Linked DNA regions of Homo sapiens. The protein of the gene in region 2 interacts with the protein of the main gene of each other region in a pairwise test. Each region holds a gene or a part of one and is shown on either strand. Other genes may lie near its edges. The genes, in order: BCAS3, PLEKHF2 and CEP44.

Region 1 (3,751 bases), on a different chromosome or scaffold from region 2:
GCCCTGCCTGTGCCTAGAGCTTCTGCCTGGCTTTGCCACTCACTCATTCACTCATGCTCACCCACACAGTCCATCTGCTGGCCAGGTCTTGGCTCATCTTTGGCACCTCCTGCCAAGTGTCCTGTTTCCCTGGGAGGGGATGCCTGGTTTGAGAGGGGCCTGCTCCAATGAAGAGAGGGTCCCTGTCTGCCTGAAGTGCCTCCTTTCTCCTTTCCTCTTAGGCCCCAAGTCTCCTGGAGGCCCCTCAGCATCAACCTGAAGGGCAGGCAGGGAGTCCCGCCCTCCTCCTCCTCTGCCTCCCTGGCCCTGCACATCCATGTTGCCACCTCAGATATGGCAGCTTGATCCATCTAATTCAGCTGTGGGCCGCTCAATTGTCCTACCATCTCTTGACCCAAGTCAGGTCCTGGGGTAGGTGGGTTGGGAATGGAATTCCCTGCTTGCTGAGTGCAAGGAAGAACCAATTACTTCTTGGCTTTTTGAAGGTGGTCAGTTCCGATTCCCTTTCAGTCTCCCCCGGGGGCTCTGACATATGGGCACACACACACCGGGCAGTCTCTGGAGCCTGCCCCAAGCCAAGATATGTAGACCTGCAACCTTTCCTTCTCCAAGGGATGCCTGCCTGTGACTGAAGGAGTCTGGCCTGTCCACCCAGGAGTGCAGGACCTCAAAGCAGTCACTTGAAACAGCAAGATGTGCAAAAACGTTGCACTCGTCTGGTCTGGCTTGAGACCTTGGTCTTCATCCTGCAACCGCTCCCAGGCCCCCTGCCACCACACGCGCAGTACAGCCGGCTCTGGTTAGGGAATGAAGGGGTCATGGCCTTCACTCCTGGGCTGGCCAACACCAGCCAGCCAGCAACGAACCACTGACCCCGACTCCCTGCAGGCCTGCAGCAGCCACAGAGTGGAGTGGGGAGGAGGCGGGCACCTGGGCCTGGGGAGGGGAGGGGCCCTTGGGATCCATCAGCCGAGTCTGTCGCCGGGGTCTCGGTGGGACAGTTCACTGGGACACCAGGGCTTCTTGGCAAATTGGGGAAAGTAGGGGGATGGGACTGTGGACAGGGACCGAGGGCCTGACTATGGTCCCTGACCTCCAGGGGACATTGGCTGCCTGGGAAAGTCAAGAGCTATCTGGATATGGATAGAAAACAAGGCAGATAGGATCTTTTTCTCCTGCTCCTCCTTCAGTATCACCCTAATCTGGGGGGACAGGCCATCGTGCCATGAGATGGAGAGGGTGGTAAAGCCAAGAGTAGACCCTGGGGATTTTACATGGAAGCTCCAGACTCCAAGAGACCCCTCTGTTGCCTTATTTCCCCAAAAGCAAGCCGAGGAGTTGTGGGCGATCTGTCCCACCGCCCTCATGCGCGGCCGGCCCGGCACTAGGGGGCGCTGACAGCAGGGCCAGGCGGGCGGGAGAAGAGCACCGGCAGGCGCAAGAAAAGCAGGGGCTTCCTTAGGATCGGGCCGCCAGGCCTAAGGAAGAAAGCCCCCGAGGAAGGAGCAGGCAGGGCCACCAGGATGGGGAAGGCTGGCCCCTTTTTACAGCTCAGGGGCAGCTTTAACGGCCTTGATGCAAAATGCCTCCACATCCACACTGCCAAGGAAGCCAGGAAACGGGAGCCCGGGCCCAGGCATGGCACCCCCACCGTCCCTTGGCATAGGCCCCCAGCAAATACCCCAGCAGCCTCGGTGGTCCCACCAATGAGTCTTCGTGGATGCACCCCAGCCCATCACACCACAGTGCAGGGAAAGCCACCCAGGGGCTTACAAGATGAATGTCCTGTTCTTGGGGGCCAGGGACAACCTGAGCGCCTTGCTCGCATTTTCCCTTTGCCAGTTAGACCCGGGTAAGAAGGATGGGGGCAGCGTTCTCCCTCGCCCCCGCATCCCAGGGTAAGGTAACCAAGGCTCTGCTGAACTTCTCCCTCCTCTGCCTCTGCCCTGGCTAAGCCTGCCCTGTGCGCCTCAGTCTCCTGACTCCAGGTCACCCACCCTGTGCCAAAGCCAGAGTGGGCTATGTACAGCACAGCCCTCATCTTGCTTTTCCTCTGCGTAAAAGCCTTCAGCCACTCCTAACAGTTCCCAGGGCAAGGTCTGAACTCCCCAGCACTGTGAAATGGCCCTCCATGACCTGCCGCCAACCCCTCACTAGTGATACCCGTTATTATGTCTGAGACACAAAAGTGATGAAGCTGTGTGGTGTTTGGACCCATCCAGGTGGTTCTAGGCCTCTGGGCCTGTGTTCATGTAACTTGCTCTACAAAGCCCCAGAACACCTACTCATCTTCCAAAGCTTAGCACGAGTGTCCACTCCTCTGTGAGCCCGTCCTGTCCCCCGAGCAGAGCCTGCCAGACCCTACCCTGCGCTGTGCTGACTCCTAGCCCAGGCCCCCTCATCGTCCCATGTGTCTCATCTAGGGGAGACCCCCTCGGGGGGGTTCTGTGCCTTAACTCTGTATCCCTAGTGGCCTGGAAAATCATGGGTGCCCTAAACATTTCTAGCATGAATGAATGAATGAATGAATGAATGAATGAATGAATGAATGATGTGGTAAGGGGAGGTGGGGGCCCATTCTTCAACACAGACTAACTGAAAGAATCGGGGGCCTGCTGGCCCCGGGGCAGCTTTGTGGGCGCTTTTCTCCACGCCTCCTCTCAGACCCCTTCTGCTCCTCCCCCTGCAGGCAGGGGTGTGTGTGGGAAGTGGAGGGGAGGAGGGCTGCTCAGATTCCCCCCTCCAAGTCATCCCGGCCGCCCAGCCCTACGAGCAAGCGGCAAATGGAAACGTGTGGCCTTACCTTCCTCCATCCCGAACGCATGCTTTGTTACTGTTGGGTTGCTCACGGACGCTGGGCTGTTGGCATTGTTTTTTTTTTCCTTTTTTTTTCCCTTTTGAAAAGAAAAGCATTGAGGAATCTTTTTGGAAAAGATATGGACAACGATTGAGAAGTACACTGATCTCTGCAAGCAGGTGGAGAGGTGTCAGGAGGCGCAGGGGCACACCGTGAGGAGGGGGAGTTTGCAGTCAAGGAGGACAGTGACATGCATGTGTAGGGGCTGGGGACCAATCTGTCTTGGGGGTCCCAGAGATGGATCTGCTGTGACAGAGGGGGCCAAGACCCCGTTCAGAGTGGGGGAGGGGGAGAGGAGTCACAGGTTCAACATGAAGAACAGTTTTAGGAAGTGGGAGGGCTGGGGACCTACGGCCCATGCAGTGCCAGATGGGACCCCATGCAGGTGGGTTGCTGGAGGAGGACAGGGAAACAGACTGCAGTTTTCAGGGATGCCCTTGGACCTTCTGACTCAGTGGCCCAACTCCTGGCTGCTGCCCTCCTCCCCCACTCCCAAGACCTCCAGGTCTGAGCAGCTGTCCTGCGGTTGAGGTGGACCTGTTGGGGAAGTCCATCAGGAACCTGCCAGGGCCCGAAAGAGAGTGCTGGGGGCTCTGTGGCAGGAAATGAGGGAAGTGTCCCCAGCCACCTCCCCCCTTAGAGGTGTGGAGATTCTGGTCAGTGGGAGAAGCTTTAAAAGAGCTTGTTCTCCAGGCCCCAAAGTAGGGCAGGAGAGGAGGAGTGGCTTCCAGGCAAGTGGCTAGACCCAGTCACCTCATTGTGACCTTGCACTCTCCAGGGATGTGGTCCCCTGGGTGGTGGGAGCTATATACCCACATTGCAGAGAGCAAAACCAAGGAAGACGAAGCAACCACTAGCTCTGGTTCTTCACCTCCCACCCCCATCCCCCAAGAA
Region 2 (3,751 bases):
TTCAAGGTAGTATTCCCTTATCTTCAGTATTTTTAGGGTTTGCAATGAAGGTCCAGAGGTTAGTTAATAGCTTCCTTAGAGTTCTTGTAGATTCAGTGGAGTTCTTAGGAACAATTAGTGTACCATAACATACTGTAACATCACAGAGAAATCAGATTTGAGGCTTGTTCTGCTGTGACAGCCTTGGGCAAGTTATTTAACCCCTCTTTGGCTGTTTACTCATCCATAAAATGGAGCTAATAGTGCATGTATCATAAGGTTGCTGTGAGGAGGAAATACAGTAATAAGTGCAAAGTGCTCAGCACATTGGTTGGACTCCCTATGAGTAGAGTTCATTCCAGGTTAAGTTTTGCTTTTACATTATTAAATATCTTTGTGCCTTAATTTCTTCATCAGCTCACAGTTCAGCTAATATTATTAGATGCTTCTTTGGGGGACAATAAAAACTTCTCTAGTAACTTCATAGGCATTTCAAACAGTTCAAATCAGAAAATAATATGAAAAGCACAGTACAAATTTATGATAGTATTAATTCTCATAGTAGCAATAATAGGAAATCTGTTTGTGTTGTATATGAGTTAATAACGATATGTTCAAATGGGTGGACTCAGTAGTTGATTCAGGTGGAGAGAAATAGATCCTTTCAGTTTTTTTTTTAAAGTGCCAATGTCTTTTCCTGTTTTAGGGCCTTTGCAGTTACTCCTTTTGTCTGGAATATTCTCCCCTATCCTTACCCCTTCTTATGTCTGTCCATCTAGTACAGCTGAAATGACAACATTGTAGAAAGGCCTTTCCTGACCATGTAGTCTGAATAGCTCTCAGTTTCTTTTAAAAATCACTTTAAAAAAAAAATCATAGCATTGATTAGTACTAGATTTCAATTTTGTTTTCTCTTTCCTTCTCTCCAACTAGAATGTAAACCCTGAAGAGCAGGGACCTTGCCTGTATTGTTTAATTTATTATTTTTTAAAATTTTTATCTGTTGTCACATACTCAAGTATGATCGCCTGTGGTGTTTATTTTTACTTTTCCTGCACCTAGATCCTAAGTGCCTGACAAATACTTGTGGAATGCTTGAATATAATGTAAAGTATGAAAAAATGATCCATAATTATACTTTCCAGAGATAAATTACCATTGTTGATAGTATAGTATATATTTTTTAACTTTATGTTGTGTGTGTGCTTACAGATACAGATGTCTATGATTATGCTTTTGAAATATGTATTCCATTGAGTCTAAAGATAAACATTTTTTACTATATGTATTTGAAATTGGTCTTATAATCAACGGTATGCTGTGGTTTAATTGGCAACATTTTTCTCTTTATGAGTTGCACATAAATATGTCTTAAAATCTATAGCACCTTAGATGTGATGAAATGTGGTATTTATTTGAAATAAAAATGAGATCAGGAAGTTCATCTCTTTTCCCCACCTAAAGATCTTGAGCATTTCCCTTGTCACTGGTTTTAGATCTGTCTTATTCTCAAGATATATGATTAAGGGTGTGTCATAACTTTTTCAATCAGTTCCTCTTGATGGCTATTTGGAGCTTTTCCAATTGTTTTCCTGTTATAAACAATGCTGTGCTGATTATCCTTGTATATATCTCTATGCACGTGAGTGAAATTTATTTAATTAGATTGGTGAATACACATATTCTCTGTAGTGTACAAGGGTACCTATTTCCCTATACCTTTATGAGTACTGAATCTTAGTAAATTTAAAAATTTTTATTAATCTAAGTGAAAAATATACTAATGTTTAATATAATTTCTTTAATTATGATAGAGATTGAAACCTCTTTTCCTGTTTATTAGCCGTTTTTATTTCCTTTTCTGTGATGTACTTGTGCATAGGATAGTAGGCTTTTAATTGGCTGGCATATTAGTCCTAATTAGAAACCTTTCCAGTTTGGAACCATGCATTATCCTATTAATTCTTGGGAACAACTTTTAGGCCTGCTACATCCTACTTTTGTGGAGGACAAGAGGGCTTTATAAGGACCCAAGATTTGCAGGGAGACAGAATTCAGAAATAACCAGAATTCTAGTGTCCTTTATAATGAAGGCCAAGAAGGGCTATAGTGTCAGTTTTTGAGCTGAATACTGGAACTTACATACTATGCTGTTAGTCTTTAAACTTTAAATGGTCTTCTTCTCAAGGCTTGTTGTTCTTTAATATGACTTGGTTATAGTATAGTAGTATTAGTTTAGTAGGTTTGAAATAGGATACAACTCTGGGACTTGAGTGAAGTCAATATTGGACTTAGAGATTAAATGTTTAGATTAATAGGGTGTTTTGCACATTGTTAAAATGTTATTAACATTTTTTAGTACCTTTTCTGTGTCAAACCGTATCAGTTTCAAACAAAACTATCAGATGATCTCTGCTTTTTAGGTTCTGCATGGTCTCTGGAGGAACAGATTTCAGTCCTTTGGTAAAAGTGAAGCTAGAATATACATGGAATATGGATAGCTCACAGGAAGGGTTTTAGTCTAGCATGGGAGTTTAAAGGAGGCTTCCTGGAGGAGACACGATTACCTAAACTAAGTCTCGAAGGATGAATATGAGTTAGCTGCAGTAGTAAGTAGTAAAAGGAACAACAGTGAAATGGACTACAAGTAGTAGAGTGTTCTTAGAATATGACATTTGAGGTGAAGACTGACTTATGGTGAGGTTGGAGTGACAAGAACCAAGTAATGAAAGGCCGTGAACACCCTGTATTTAATAGGTTAAGGGATCATTTTGAGCAATGATGGGGTCAAATTAGGGTTTTAGAGATCACTGCCCAAAGATTGATTTGGGGGCAAGATTGAAGGCCAGGACACATGTTGGGAAACAGTTCTAGTAATCCAGGTGAGAGAATTAAGGCTGTAGCTCAGTGGTAATAGCTTACTTGGAAAATTGTAGTCATTTTTCTTAGTTTATGTAACATTTTGTTCCCTATTGTTCAGAATCCCATTGAGATTACATTTCATTGAATGGGGTTTATTATTTTGCAGAGATAAGTTATGTTAATTATCCAATCGTCTTTCATTCAATTATGTCTGTAGGAAGTTTATACTTTTACAAATACCTGCTTAACTAGTATGGTGCTACGTGGAGATGATAAATAAGTGTTTTTCATCATTTTAAAAATTGAGAAATGTTAGCCCTTTTGATGTGCTTAGTGATTATCTTAGAGGGAAAGAATTTTAGAACATTTTGCCTTTGTGTAAAAGCAATGATTTGTTAGCTTAATTTATATATAATTAACTTATAGGAATTTATAATTTATATGTGCTAATTTCTTTTTCTTTTTTTTAAAAGGCTATTAGTGAAAGATGGTGGATCGCTTGGCAAACAGTGAAGCAAATACTAGACGTATAAGTATAGTGGAAAACTGTTTTGGAGCAGCTGGTCAACCTTTAACTATACCTGGACGAGTTCTTATTGGAGAAGGAGTATTGACTAAGTTGTGCAGGAAAAAGCCCAAAGCAAGGCAGTTTTTCTTGTTTAATGATATTCTTGTATATGGCAATATTGTCATCCAGAAGAAAAAATATAACAAACAACATATTATTCCCCTGGAAAATGTCACTATTGATTCCATCAAAGATGAGGGAGACTTAAGGAATGGATGGCTAATCAAGACACCAACTAAATCTTTTGCAGTTTATGCTGCCACTGCTACGGAGAAATCAGAATGGATGAATCATATAAATAAATGTGTTACTGATTTACTCTCCAAAAGTGGGAAGACACCC
Region 3 (3,751 bases), on a different chromosome or scaffold from region 2:
GAACATGAGACCCAACCATAGCAAAATAATCATTCTTCTCAAAAGGACATGAAACATTCTCTATAACTGATCACAGCCTAGGTCACAAAACAAGTCTTAACAAATTTAAGAAGACTAAAAACATTCTAAACATTTTGTCTGATCACGAGGGAATGAAACTAGAAATCAATAATAGAAAGAAAATGGAAAAATTCACAAATACAGGGGAATTAAATAACATACTATTAAATAATACTGGGTCAAAGAATAAATCAAAACAGAAATTATAAAATATCTCAAGACAAACAATAATAAAAACACAGTATACCCAAACATATAGGATGCAGTAAAAGCAGAATAAGAGAAGTGTTTATAGCAATAAATTCATTAAGAAGAAGAAAGAGGCAGGACACAGTGGCTCACGCCTATAATCCTAGCACTTTTGGGGGCTGAGGCAGGCGGGTCACTAGGTCAAGAGATTGAGACCATCCTGGCTAACATGGTGAAACCCCATCTCTACAAAAAATACAAAAATTAGCTGAGCATGGTGGTGCGTGGCTCTAGTCCCACCTACTTGGGACTCCCACCTACTCGGGAGGCTGAGGCAGGAGAATCACTTGAACCCGGGAGGCGGAGGTTGCAGTAAGCCAAGATCATCACGCCACTGCACTCCAGCCTGGTGACAGAGCAAGACTCTGTCTCAAAGAAAAAAAAAAAAAGGTCTCAATAAAACAACCTAACTTTACACCTCAAGGAACTAGAAAAAGAACAAACTAAATCCAAAATTAGCAGAAGGAAGAAAATAATAAAGATTAGATTAGAAATAAATGAAATAGAAAATTGAAAAACAATTTTAAAAATTGACAAAACTAAAAGTTCCTCTTTTGAAAAGACAAACTAAATCAACAAATCCTTGGCTAGACTTTAAAAATAGAAGACTCAAACAAAATCAGAAATGAAAGAGGACACAATTGATCCCACAGATATAAAAAGTATCATAAGGGACTATTATGAACAATTATATGCCATCAAATTGGACAATCTAAAAAAAAATGGGTAAATTCCTAGAAAAATATAACTTACCAAGACTGAATCAAGAAGAAATAGAATGCTTGAATAGACAAATAACAAAAAAGGAGATTGATGGAATAATCAAAAAATTCCCAACAAAGAAAAGCCAAGAGCCAGATACATTCTAGCAAACATTTAAAGAAAAATTAATACAAAACCTTATTAAACATATCTAAAAAAAAAAAAAAAAGAAGAGGGAACACTTCCAAAGTCATTCTGAGGCCTGCATCACCCTGATACCAAAGCCAGACAAATACACTACAAGAAAACTACAGTCTAATACATTTGATGAATATAGACGTAAAAATCCTCAATGAAATGTTAGCAAACCAAACACAACAGCACATTAAAAGAATCATATACCATGACCAAGTAGGATTTTTCATTGTGATGCAAGGATGGTTCAACATATGACAACCAACCAATGTAATATACTGCATTAATAGAATGAAGGATAAAACTCACATGGGCATCTGCACAGATGCAGAAAAAGCACTTGACAAAATTCGATACTCTTTTGTGATAAAAACTCCCAATAAACTAGGTATGGAAGAACCTTATAGCAAATTAGGTAAAGGAAAAACAAAATAAAGTCCATTTATGAGAAGCCCACAGCTAAGATACTTAAAGATAAAAAACTGAAAGCTTTCCCCATAAGATGAGGAACAAGGCAAGGTTGCCTACTTTAGCCTCTCCTATTCAGCGTAGTATTTTAAGTCCTAGCCAGAATAACTAGGTAAGAAAAATAAATTAAAAACATCCAAATAAAAAGAGAAGAGGTACAATATCTGTTTGCAGATGACATGATCTTAGATGTAGAAAACCTTAGGGACCCCAACAAAAATGTGAGAATAAACAAATTTGCCTTTAAAAAAGAAGGAAATCCTGCCATTTGCAACAACATGGATGAACCTGAAGGACATTATGCTAAGTGAAATAAGCTAAACACAAAAAGACAAATACTGTATTATCTCAATGTATGTGAAATCTAAAATAGTCAAATACATGCAAGCAGAGAATAGAATGGTGGTTGTAAGGGAACATGGGGAGAACAAAATGGGAAGCTGTTGTTCAAAGGGTACAAAGTTTCAGTTAGGCAAAATAAATAAGATCTGCAGGTACAACCCAGTGTCTGTGATTAGCAATATTGTATTCTTAAAATTTTGCTAAGAAGTTAGATCTAATGTTAAGTGCTCTTATCACAAAACGTGAAAAAAAGATGAGTAGAAGGAAACTTTTCAAGGTGATGGCATTGATTTCTTGTAGTAATAATGGTTGGATGGTTTCACAATATCTACTTATCTCCAAACAGAAACTGTATACATTAAATGTCTATAGCTTTCTGTATGTCAATCATACCGCAATAAACAGGTTAAAAAATGAAGCAGCACCAGATCCCTGTACACACACCTCTAAAAATAGTCCCTTTGTATATAAAGCACCCCAAATTTTCTCCTTCTGAGTGTGTTATCTACTTAATTAAGGGCCTGGACTACAAAATCCAAGTTTTCACTTTTCACCCAAAGTTTTCCATTCTCACACACAGAATTTTCTCGTTCAGTTAGCAGATGCAAGAAGAGAATTTCAGATATTAGCTTTAAATACTACATTCTTGTCTATACCTGGTATTACTAGCTCTACCTAATTCATTTTCTTTCTTACCATGAAATTATAGAAACAAAAAGGTTACTGCAAAACACTTATAAACATATTGTCAGCATGAAATAATTATAATTATCCTATAATAAATTGTACCTTTTGAACAATTTTGGTCACTTTTTGATCTTCGTGTATTAATAAGTTAATACATGTAAATCATAACCAGAAGGGAAAATCAAAACATTCCACTTACCAAGTAATGATGAAAAAGAGAATGTGTGTGATTTAGTTAATTTAAAATATTATAGAAAGCAACAAATAACAGAAATGGTATCTGGGATAAAGTTCCTGGACCTGGATAAGGATGTTTGGTGATATCTCAAGCTGTTCAACACCTTTGCACATGCCATTTCTTCAAGCTTGAAGAGATACAGAGCAACTCCTTCCCTCTCCCATTCTCCATCTGGCTAATACCCCTCGGCATCCTGCTTAAATGTCACCACCTCAAATAAGTCTTAGATCCCAAACTAATTAATCCCCCTCATTAATTTTCTCTAATAGACCCAGTTCTTTTCCTTCTTGGTACTTATCATAATAAAGAACCAAAATCTGTGCCAAGGGTCCAAAATAGCACTCTACCTGAAAAGCAACACTTAATCCTTGTCATTTCTCAGCTCTATTTCAGAATGAGCTGGGTTACTACCTGGGGTCCCATAACGACCTATATCCCAATGGCCTAGAAATAGAAGGAATACACCGATTCCCCCTCTTGATGCTGATTCTTCACTTTAATAAGCCACCACCATTGTCAGTCAAGATGTTTTGCACTGTCATCGGTCCCAAACTCCTGCTGGTTAGCCAGCTGTCTACTTCCAAGAAGAAAAGGTGAACACAGAAAAAAAGGCAAGAAATTCAAAATATCTATGCTTTTTACAGAAAGAGTAAATGGTACAATTATTTTGGAAAACTTACTGGTGATACCTACTAAAAGCTGACATACATGGGGCCTATGAAACAGGAATATGACTCTGAAGAATGTACACAACAGAAAAACACATACGTGAACCAAAAGATTTGAACGAACTGAGACTTTAAACAAAAT

What was found.
Region 1: the proteins of PLEKHF2 (region 2) and BCAS3 interact in binary tests that used the Homo sapiens proteins (3 or more experiments, as listed by UniProt).
Region 3: the proteins of PLEKHF2 (region 2) and CEP44 interact in binary tests that used the Homo sapiens proteins (3 or more experiments, as listed by UniProt).

What each region holds. Positions count from the first base shown.
Region 1 is NC_000017.11:61,387,761-61,391,511, reverse strand, and holds part of BCAS3 (BCAS3 microtubule associated cell migration factor), read right to left. Parts: intron 2,895-3,751; coding exon of another isoform or gene 2,804-2,894; intron 1-2,803. UniProt on the Homo sapiens protein: Plays a role in angiogenesis. Participates in the regulation of cell polarity and directional endothelial cell migration by mediating both the activation and recruitment of CDC42 and the reorganization of the actin cytoskeleton at the cell leading edge.
Region 2 is NC_000008.11:95,150,717-95,154,467, forward strand, and holds part of PLEKHF2 (pleckstrin homology domain-containing family F member 2), read left to right. Parts: intron 1-3,314; 5' UTR 3,315-3,328; coding exon 3,329-3,751. UniProt on the Homo sapiens protein: May play a role in early endosome fusion upstream of RAB5, hence regulating receptor trafficking and fluid-phase transport. Enhances cellular sensitivity to TNF-induced apoptosis.
Region 3 is NC_000004.12:174,286,785-174,290,535, reverse strand, and holds part of CEP44 (centrosomal protein of 44 kDa), read right to left. Parts: intron 1-3,751. UniProt on the Homo sapiens protein: Centriole-enriched microtubule-binding protein involved in centriole biogenesis. In collaboration with CEP295 and POC1B, is required for the centriole-to-centrosome conversion by ensuring the formation of bona fide centriole wall.